Regions from separate parts of the Homo sapiens genome. Here region 1 is linked to region 2. The links come from fine-mapping of genetic effects on gene expression. A gene starts in region 2. The other region holds a variant in brackets. All regions are shown on one strand. Distances are between the middles of the regions.

Evidence for each region. PIP is the estimated chance that this variant, and not a neighbour inherited with it, causes the effect.
Region 1: its variant is the best candidate, but not a certain one, in a credible set for the expression of ZNF180 in prefrontal cortex (GTEx, PIP 0.68).

What each region holds. Positions count from the first base shown.
Region 1 is chr19:44,469,880-44,475,255 of GRCh38, forward strand. It overlaps ZNF180 (zinc finger protein 180), which reads right to left. Exons shown (of 5, transcript NM_001278509.3): 5 at 4,564-5,376. It also overlaps the pseudogene ZNF285BP. Among named protein-coding and RNA genes, the nearest start is that of ZNF229, 24 kb to the left of the region's middle. The variant T/C (reference allele first, on the strand shown) is at 3,309.
Region 2 is chr19:44,497,482-44,502,857 of GRCh38, forward strand. It overlaps ZNF180 (zinc finger protein 180), which reads right to left and starts at 3,041. Exons shown (of 5, transcript NM_001278509.3): 1 at 2,794-3,041. RefSeq lists enhancers at 2,311-2,809, 2,797-2,846, 2,810-3,310, 2,857-2,916, 2,927-3,136 and 2 more.

The DNA.
Region 1 (5,376 bases), 28 kb before region 2:
AACTAGGATTTGAACCCTCCTAATCTGGTCCTAGGTCCTGTGATTTTAATAAATAACCTCATGAAACCAAAGCGTAAACTGTAGACACAGGACCTTTTGCATAAATCTGCATATCTCTGCAGTTGTTTCTCAAACTGCAGGATAAAACCCTCTTGGTGAGTCCTGAAATCAAATTACTGTGTCATAACTAGCAATTTTTAAAAAGCAAAATAGATTAATAGAACAGAAAACAAAAGAATTTATCAAAGTACATTGCACACAGTATGTAACTATCAGCTGAGCAAGTTTTAGTGAGCAGTCTGTGTTGATGTTTGTGCCTATTCCTACTGAGTCACAATGCTGATTTTACTGTGGGTTACAATCAAAACAATTGGGAAACCACTGCTTAAACCCTATTCAGGGCAGCTCGTGGTCTCCCTTTCCCTGATACTATCTTATAAACTAAAGTCACTTTCAATAAAACAACCCAGAAAGGACCTTGAACCAGAAGCAGTATCCAGTGGGACTTGACCATGATATTCATGCCATTTTGAAACCCATCTTAGGATCCCAAGAATATGATCGTCCTCTTCTGCCTCAGCCCCCTGTTTGTTATATACCACAGTCTTGCTTCCCTGGGTGCCAGGCCATTGACAGTGCCACAGTATCTGTTCCCCATTTTCATAGTCATGGCTGTTTGAGATTCTGCAACAACTTAAAAGGGCAGAACTTAAGGAAATGGATTGTAGGATCTGAGTGGTCTCTATCTTTTCATGAAGACAAAGAACCTTGGGGAAAATAAAAAGGATGTCTCTTAAAGCTTGTCTCAGAGGTTTACATACGCATCCCCGCACAACGCCAGGACCATATTTCACAATGTTTACCCCATTTCAATCCCCATTGCCTTTTTATCCCCATCCCCTTTAGGCTCACCATGTACAGTTGTGCAGGTTGTACACAAACATACATGATAGTCCTCCATATGACAGTGATGTGAAGGAAGGGAAGCCATCAGGAGATAGGACTTGTTGCTTGTTTCTGAAACCTCTTGTGACCCTTTGTGTCCCTTACTCTGCCCAACATATAAAAAACACTCCATCAATATGTATTATTTATATACACACACACACTACATAAAATGGGAGCCTTTCCCATACCTTTTGTAGCAAGATTATTAAAGGCTTTTTATCGACTACTCTTATAGCAGGGAGGTGAATTTCTTCCTTCATAAATTTTTCCTAAGATTTCCTTTTTTTTCTTTTTTGCAGAGTAGGGGTGGAAAGGTCTTGCTCTGTCACCCAGGCTGGAATGCAGTGGCACAATCTTGGCTCACTGCAACCTCTGCCTCCCAGGATTAAGCAATCCTCCAACCTCAGATTTCCAAGTGGCTGGGATCATAGGCAAAACTGAGCCAATTTTTAATTTTTTTGTAGAGATGGGATCTCATCATATTGCCCAGCCTGGTCTTGATCTCCTGGGCTTGAGTGATCCTCCCACCTCAGCCTCTCAAAGTGTTGCTATTACAGGCATGAGCCACTGCACCTGGCCAAGATTTCTTTTAATTTCCCTACAACACTTGATTTCCAATTGGCAGCTCACAGGTTAGAATTACCGTGGCTCTAATTGTTTCATATGTCAATAGAAGCCAGGGACAACTTCCCACCCCATCATATTTCGTTTTCTCAAAACCTCTGGACAGATGATTGACTTGGTCTCTTAGCCACATTCTCTTTCTTCTCATAAGAGATGGGATTAAAAACAACATTTTGAATCTTCAGGAAAAGGGGTTGAATTACCTTTTACAAGAAGTGCTTCATTGCTGGCAGATTTCGAAACAAAGGATCCAGGATTTAACTGGGAGTCAGGATTATATCATGAACCTTCAAGAAGAGTGTTCCCCACATTTAAAAATGTTTCCCTCTGTGAAGAGTGAGCAGGCAAGTCTCTTCAGATTTCTGAAAATGAAAACTATGTAGCAAATGTCATTATCAAAAATCAGGATATCACAGCATGGCAAAGCCTGACACAGGTTCTTACCCCAGAATCGTGGAGGAAAGCCAACATAATGACCGAGCCCCAGAACTCTCAGGGAAGATATAAGGGAATTTACATGGAAGAGAAATTGTACAGACGTGCTCAGCATGATGACAGCCTCAACTGGACCTCACATGATCATCATGAGTCCCAAGAATGTAAAGGAGAGGACCCTGGTAGACATCCCAACTGCAGGAAAAACTTTGGTATGAAATCAACAGTTGAACAACATAATGCAGTCCATGTATTACCACAGCCTTTCACATGTAATAACTGTGGGGTGCCCTTTGCAGATGATACAGATCCTCATGTCCATCACAGCACTCACCTAGGAGAAAAATCTTATAAATGTGACCAGTATGGAAAGAACTTTAGTCAGAGCCAAGATCTTATCGTTCATTGTAAAACTCACTCTGGCGAGACTCCCTATGAATTCCACGAATGGCCTATGGGCTGCAAACAGAGCTCAGACCTTCCCAGATATCAGAAAGTCCCTTCAGGAAACAAACCCTACAAATGTAAAGAATGTGGCAAGGGCTTCAGGTGCAACTCCTTCCTTTATAACCATCATGGAGTCCACACAAGGGAGATGCCCTACAAATGTGATGCATGTGGGAAAGGGTTTGGATTTAGGTCACTTCTTTGTATTCATCAGGGAGTACACACAGGGAAAAGCCCTATAAAAGTGAAGAGTGTGGGAAGGGCTTTGATCAGAGCTCCAACCTTCTTGTCCATCAGAGAGTCCACGCTGGAGAGAAGCCCTACAAATGCAGTGAGTGTGGCAAGTGCTTTAGTTCAAGCTCCGTTCTTCAAGTCCACTGGAGGTTTCACACAGGGGAGAAACCTTATAGGTGTGATGAGTGTGGAAAGGGCTTCAGCCAAAGTACACACCTTCACATTCACCAGAGAGTCCACACAGGGGAGAAACCATACAAATGCAATGTGTGTGGAAAGGATTTTGTGTATAGCTCTGTTCTTCACACTCATCTGAGTTCACACTCGAGAAAAACCATATAAATGCAAAGTGTGTGGAAAGTGCTTTAGTTACAGTTCATATTTTCACTTACATCAAAGAGATCACACCAGAGAGAAACCATATAAATGTGATGAGTGTGGTAAAGACTTCAGTCGGAATTCAGATCTTCGTGTTCACCTCAGAGTCCACACAGGAGAGAGGCCCTATAAGTGTAAGGCATGTGGTAAGGGCTTCAGTCGTAATTCATACCTCCTTGCCCATCAGAGAGTGCATATAGATGAGACACAGTACACACATTGTGAGCGTGGCAAGGACCTTC[T/C]GACTCATCAAAGACTACATAAGCAGAGAGAAACATTATAAAGGTAGTAAGTCAGGGTTCAATTAGGAAAACAGAAGCCACACTGTATTCCAGATGATAGAGGCTAACTCAGCCTTTGGGAGGGCTGGGGGAGCAAAAGACAGGGACGCTGCCATCGATGAGGTCAGCATGACAGGCTGGGGGTTCGCGCTGGCACAGGCGCCGGCAGCCACATCGGCAGGCAGGAGGGTCCCGCTGCACAGCTGAGGGGTGATGATTGCCTGGGTGGTGATGTCGGCCATTAGACGCGCCTCTTCTGCCGGCAAGTGTGTGGCAGTATGAAGTAGAAGGACAAGCCTGTATTTGAGGCTGGAATGCGGAAGGGGCTCTTCTGCGGCTAGGTGTGGGACCCTGAGCAGGAATGTGGAGAAATGGGCAGGTAAATGCATCACGTTGGCCAGGAGATTTGCAAGGACTTACAGCTGAATGATGATAATGGGGAGTGACTGTGAGGCCCTGGGAGTCTCTGAGTGTAAAGGAAGATAGGTGTGGGGCCCCCAGGGAGTATGTGGGAGCCATTGCTGTGTAGGTGGAGGTAGTTGGGGAATAATCTGGTGAGCTCTGTGAATTTCTAGGGTTCTCCTGAATGCTGAGGGGTGACTCTTGCAGAAAACTGAGGATGCTTGGAGAATAGCTGGGAGACACAGATGAGGCCCTAAGGAATGGTGGTATAGAGGTGACAGAGATAAGGGAGGAGCACAGTGAGGTCTATGAGTTTCTGGGTGACTCCTGTGTGTTCAGGGCTGACCCAAGGAGAAATCTGGGGATGGTTGGAGAGGAGCTGGGAGACACAGGAGAGTCCCTGAGGGTTGCAGGTGAAGAGATGGGAGACGTGATAGAAGAGGGCCCTGAGATTTTTGTCTATAGGTGATACTTGGGTTTGGGAAGCTGAATGTTGCAGTAAGCTGGGGATTGAGAGAATCTGGGAGACACAGGAGAGTACCTGAGGGCCTGGAGTAAAGAGTTGGGAGACATGGGGCCAGAGCCCTGTGAGGTCCCTGAGTTTCTGCTTGTTACATGGGTGTCAGGGCCTGACTGTTACAGAAATCTAGGAATGATTGGAGAGTAATTGGGAGACATGAGACTCCCTGAGGGCTGGTGGTGAAGAGATGGGAGACATAGGGGAGGATCCCGTGAGGTCTATGAGTGTCTCTGTAATTCCTGGGTGTGGCAGGCAGACTGTCACTGAATATGAAGAATGTTCATGGCTTATATATTTTTTATTTTTACTTTATTTTCTAGGTCTCATCATAGCTCATATATAACACTCAAAACATCATTAAACCATCTAATCTAATATTCGACCATATCATTTCTTTCTTTACACGACTTGTGAGATAAGTAAGATATCAGTTAAAATTTTCATTTCAGCATCTGTTTTTCTCATATCCCCTTTGTGCTTCTTAAAGATGGTTAAAATAGGACAGACAGACTTGGAACTTTGTTCAACTGTCTTAGGAAAAGACCATTGCAGGGGCACAGTCTTTCAACCCCACTGGCCATGTAAGACTAGGCCTGGAGCCTGGAACACATCCTTCCCAAGAGATACTGAACCTCTTTCAGACTCATTGAGGGTTCTTCAAAGTGTGGGTCAGTGGTCCCCAAGGGATGCCCGCAGCTTTCAGTATTTCACACTCCATGAAAACATCAGCAACTGTTTTCCCAGACCTGACACTGCCAGGTGTGCAACAATCTCTGGATTAATCCTCATAGAGATGGCTCCACTTAGGGTCATCTCATAGGGATAGAATTTTGCTAAGGATAACCCCATCAGTTACCCTTTAAGTTTTCTTTCCTATCCCAAGGGTATTAACCTCTATTATCTGGTCTCTCAGTTCAACTTTCAGCTTATTACCTTTCTGGGATCAGAGGCTTCAATATATGGTCATCCACAGGATTCAAATTCATGATTCAAGGGAAAGGTCAGAAAGACATGTTAATCAAATCTTAAATATCAAAGAGTAACTAAAACTTTGCCTCATGAAAGCATTTTTGCAAGCATAATTTAGACGGTCAGCACTGAGCCAGG
Region 2 (5,376 bases):
AGCAAATGCACTTCTGGAGGTTCCTGCCAGCTTCCTGCCCAAATACCTGTGTATGTACTGAGAGTCCCTCAGTCCCTCTCCCAGGTCAAGTTTCTGCAGCTCCAACCTGGTTCCTCCACCATCTTGGGCCCCTGGACCATCTACCTGTAAGCCCAGCTTGTGCCCAACATGGCCTTCTGCCCACCACCAAAGTCTGCAGCACCAGTCCATCCCTCTCCTATTCACTGGGCCCTGGGATCCCCACAAATATCAGGCATATTGAGGACCCCCTGGTGTTCACCCCATCCTACCCCTACCAACCTCAATCTACAGCCCCAAACCAGCACTTCTTCCTAGGGCCAGAATCACACTCACTGCCTAACTGCATGAAGCTGGTGACACAGCTCCACTGCTCCCAGGAACTGATTCAACAACTAAGACTGATCCTACCGTTCCATCAGCCAGACCTGTCCCTCCAGCAACTCAGCACAGAGGGCCACCCACATCCTGCTCAAATAGCCAAGCATTTATGCACAGAGCTCAGCTATACCCACATCCTGTTCCCTCCACACTTCTGGGGTCCACTGGCTCCTACTCGAACAGCACCAGCCAGATTCCCACCCTAACACCCTCCCAGGCCCTGAATTTGTAGCTCTAAACCAGTCCCTCCACCAACTTGGGTATACTCAGGCCTGAAACTACAACAAGGCCTGCATAGGGCTGGGGGCCTCCAACAGACACCAGCACAAGCCAGACAAAAGCAGCCCTACCCAGGCTCTAAATACATGTCTCAGAAGCTCAGGTGCCTCTGTACCAACTAGGTGTTTTGGGATCCAAGACTAGAGGGCAAATCCTACCCTAGGCACCCCACCCTCTGCACTCCATCTCTCCCACTTACTCTCTCCCCTGCTCCCACCATATTCTCACGCAGCATAGCGTAGGTTCACAATGCAGCTGTTTCCTGAAATTGCACCCAAACTGTTTCCTCCACCTTACTCCACAGCCCCCTGCTTGAGCCACACCTGCCCAGATTCTGACCAAACATCTTTCGGGGGCACCTGTGGCTCAGGAAGATCCTGTCTTTCCACCAAACTGGGCACCATCAGGCTGTGATCAGGGTTCCAATCACACAAAGACCCCAGCACCCTCTGTCTAAAACTCATCTCCGGCCTCCTGTTTCCCAACCAAACACCGGTGTGTGTGCACAAGGGGTGCCTGACACAGTCCCGCCCCTCTGCAGCTGCTCCCCCCCACACACCTGGGCATCCTCAGGCAGAATCAGGGTCCTAGGACTGCCCATGCCTCCCCAATCTGCCCAAATGCCAGCACACGTGCAGAGTGTTGCTGGAGCAGCCCCGTGCCTCCTAAGACCAGATCCAAACTGGAGCCCCCAGGCCTCTATTCCACAGCCACTGCACACGGGCCACCCACCTAGACTCCCTCCTACTGATACAGCCACAGAGCAGGTTCGTGCTCACAATCTGCATCCAGGACCTGGCTCCTCTGCCCGTCTGGGGGCACACCATGCTCCTGAGTCAACAATCTACATCCCTCACCCTGTGTCTCAACCTGCCTGGGACATCTCAGGTACCCACAGCCTCTGTGTAGGTTCTGGGGTCAACTGCCCCACTATTTGCCCGCAGCCAGGACACTACAACAACTAAACAGTAGCTTGAGCATACAGCTCCATAATCAGCCCCAGGACTTGGGCACTCGCCAGCGTGGGGGTTCTCGAGCCTACGATACAGCAGCTCAATGGGAACTGGGCCCTTTGTCCTTCTCTTGCCCAATCATGACGGCCTGGGTGTTGTGCAGTCAGCTCTTCCCGGGACCAAATCTGCAGCACAGGCTCTGTCCCTCTACTAACCTGCACATTCTCACGCCTGCAAATAGCGTACCCAAGTAAAGGTCTCAGCAACACCTGCTTCATAACGATGCTGGCAACATACTGCTTCCTCCCCAGCTACCAATTTGATGGCAGCTGTTGCAGCTCTGTCCTTCCTGGACTTAAATTCTGTATCTCCAACCCGGAGTCTCTGCCCATCTTGAATGCTCTAGAGCTCTGCACTATCCTACATAGGTCCCTACTATCAGTTCAAGTTTCTGTTTTCCATTCAGACACCCCCAGGACGTGCAGGGGGCCCTCTGCCCAGAACCTGTTTCTAGGCCCTGATACCCTCCTTCAGCCTGGGAGTTTGCTGCCCATGGGTAATTCCCACCAAGGGTTCACTAGCAACACTGCCTCTTCTGGCACAAGAATCTGCAACTCCAATCTGGTCTCTCCACCAACCACAGCGCCCCCAGACCTTGGAGAAGCGCGTTGTCTGCTCTAGGGGCCCAGAGCCACCTGCTCGGAATCTTACCTACAACCTTTTGCTTCCTACCCAAATACCTGATCAAGAGTAAAGGGACAGTGGCACAGCCCCTCCTCTCCAGAAACCACAATCTGCAATGGAGCACTCCATCAACCCGGACATCCTCAGGCCTCCACTAAATAAGCCCGGCATTGGAGGAGGGGAGTTCTCAAGATGTCCCCTTACATCAATGCATGTGCCCTGTGTTCCAGCAACCTGGGCATCCTCAGGCCCCAGACAAGAGCACCACCTGACCAAGCACCCGCGCATGCACGCAGAGGACAGTCGCGGAATATACAGCTGTATCAGTAACTCCATCAACCCCGGTGACCCGAGGCTAAAGCGCCACCCGCACAGATACCAGGTCTCCCCGCTACACTCACCACCGCTTCCAGCTTCCCGCGTAGACCCTGCGCATGCGCGCATCGGACACCAAGCGCTGCCCCACGCCCCTACCAACCTGGGCGTCCGCTGGCCCGCAGCCCAGGCTGGGCCTGTCACCGCCTCAGTGCCTAGCACGGCTCTGCGGCAGGACGAACTCGGGTTAGGCAACCCCCTGCCCCGATTCTGCAACACGGCCGACTCGGGTTAAGCTAGTTCGGTCCCCTCTCCTAGTCAGCATCCGCAAGGCCGCTGGGGGTTAAGTCTGAAGGGCCGAGCTGCTCGGCGACAGCAAGCGTCCGCGCGCGGGACAATGGCTGCTCTTGTGGCCGAACCCGGAAGTGCACTTGGGCTCGGAGAGCCAGAACTACAATTCCCAGAAGCCTCCGCGGCGCGGACGGTCAGTAGGCGGGGTTCCGGCTTCTCCAAGGAAGTGGGGCGGGGGACCGGGCCAGAAGCTAAGAGGGCGTCCTCGTCCGGGGCCCGGGGGGGCGCCACACCTGTGCATGTGCAGGTCTAGGGGGAGCACTAAGACCAGCCGCGGCGCCGGGAGGCCGAGGCCAGTGCAGCGACGCATGGGGAGTCGCTCTGGCGTGACGTCAGAATCCAATAGAAATGGCGGGGACCCTTTCTGGGTGCCCCCTGCCTGTCAGACGCTGCGCGCGACCCCTTGTCTCCTCTAGTCCTAGGGGAAACCTGTGAGACAGTTGCGACATCCCCATTTTACAGTGGAGGGAGCGTCTACCGAACCCTTCAGGAATCTATGTTTTTACATTTAATAATACTAAAATATAATCATTTTATTTTTAAATTTTGAGTTCTTTCTCTGCCTATAAGGCCTGAAGGATCTGTTCCCCCCACCTCTCCCCTTTTCTCTGTTTTTGTTTTGTTTTGTTTTGTTGTTTTGAGACGGAATTTCGCTCTTGTCGCCCAGGCTGGAGGGCAATAGCGCGATCTCGGCTCACTGCAACCTCCACCTCCCGGATTCAAGCGATTCTCCTGCCTCAGCCTCCTGAATAGCTGGGATTACAGGCGCCAGCCACCACGCCCGGCTAATTTTTGTATTTTTAGTAGAGACGGGGTTTCACCACGTTGGCCAGGTTAGTCTCCAACTCCTGACCTCAGGTGATCCGCCCTCGGCCTCCCAAAGTGCTGGGATTACAGGCGTAGTCCCCTTTTCTCTTTGCCCTCATTTCTTGCCCATTTGCTTGGCACATTTTCCCCATTCTCCAACAGATCCAGCAGACTCCAGCCCCTGGTCGTTTGCAGGTGCTCTTTGCACTCCCTAGCAGCCTCTCCTGAGGGATTCATTTGGCTCTCACCGTCTGGTAATTAGGGGAATATCATCTTCTCATGAGGCATTGCCCCACCACCCGTTGTGAACTTGCAAGCAAACGCTTCCCTCCCCACATGCTCTGTGCCTCCCCCTTCATCTTTTATTTTTTTCTCTAAAGAACTTTTCACTATCTAGCACACTATATATTTTAATTATTTATTTGGTCTACTGTCCGACCTACCACTACGATGTCAATTCCATAAGGAAAAGCATTTTATCGATGTTGATCACTGCTGCATCCCCAACACCTAAAAAAAAAAAAAAGAGAGAGACCTGGCACATAATAGATGCTCAATAAATATTCGTTGGCTAAATAAAGGTTCCTGTCTCTGTATTAAACACTTTAATATTTCATTACCAAGCCCAATCAGCCTATGAGGTAGTTGTGTTAATTTTCATCCTACCAGGGAGGTAGCTGAAAATTGGAGCCCTGCTGTATGAAAATACATAATTTTTTAGTTTTTAAAATGCTTGTCAAAGCACTCCTGTAGTTTTCTTCACGTAAATTCTGACCTTTAAAAACAATGAATTATTACTATTTGAAATGTAATCTCTATCCCCAAAGCTTCTTATTATTGGTTATTGTGGTTGATCTTTTAAAAAATACTTATTTTGTATCTGGTTAACCTACTGCAATGTTATTAATTCTTACAATACTCCAGTTGACTCTCTTGGCTTTTCTATTGAGACAGTTATCTACAATTTCATCTTTTCCTTACCAGTATTTTAAATTAGACATTCTCTTTCATGTTGGATTATATTGGCTACCATTTCCAAAAAAGTATTACTAAAAGAGGCATTCTTGTTTGTGTTCTTTTAATGGACATATCTCTGAAGTTTGAGGGTTAAATGTGACATCGGTTTCTACATTGAAGTAAGTAGCTTATTTTTTTAACCTTTTATTTTGTAAATTTCAAAACAAAAGTAGGGACTCAATTAATGACTCCCCAAGACCTATGTCATCCAACTTAAATATTTTCACTCAGTCTTGTTTCATCTGTATTTCCACCTATGTTGTGCATTTGAGACCAAGATGTTGAACTCTAGAGTCCATGCTCTTAACTTTTACATTATGTTGCCGCTTGTCTACACATCAGTATCTTTCCTCTACGTGCAAGCAATACTAAGTTTGCAAACAAAACAGAAAAAGTTCGTATGTATTCACAAAAAAGCAAAAAAAAAAAGCCTTATAAGTAAATTTAGTAAGATAAATATGTCATCTGAAGAAACCCTCAAAACCTTACTGAGAGAGAAAAATGGACAAATAGAAATGCTGTGTTGCTAGCTGTGTGTTGTAAAGATGTAAAATCTTGCAGATTGATCTGC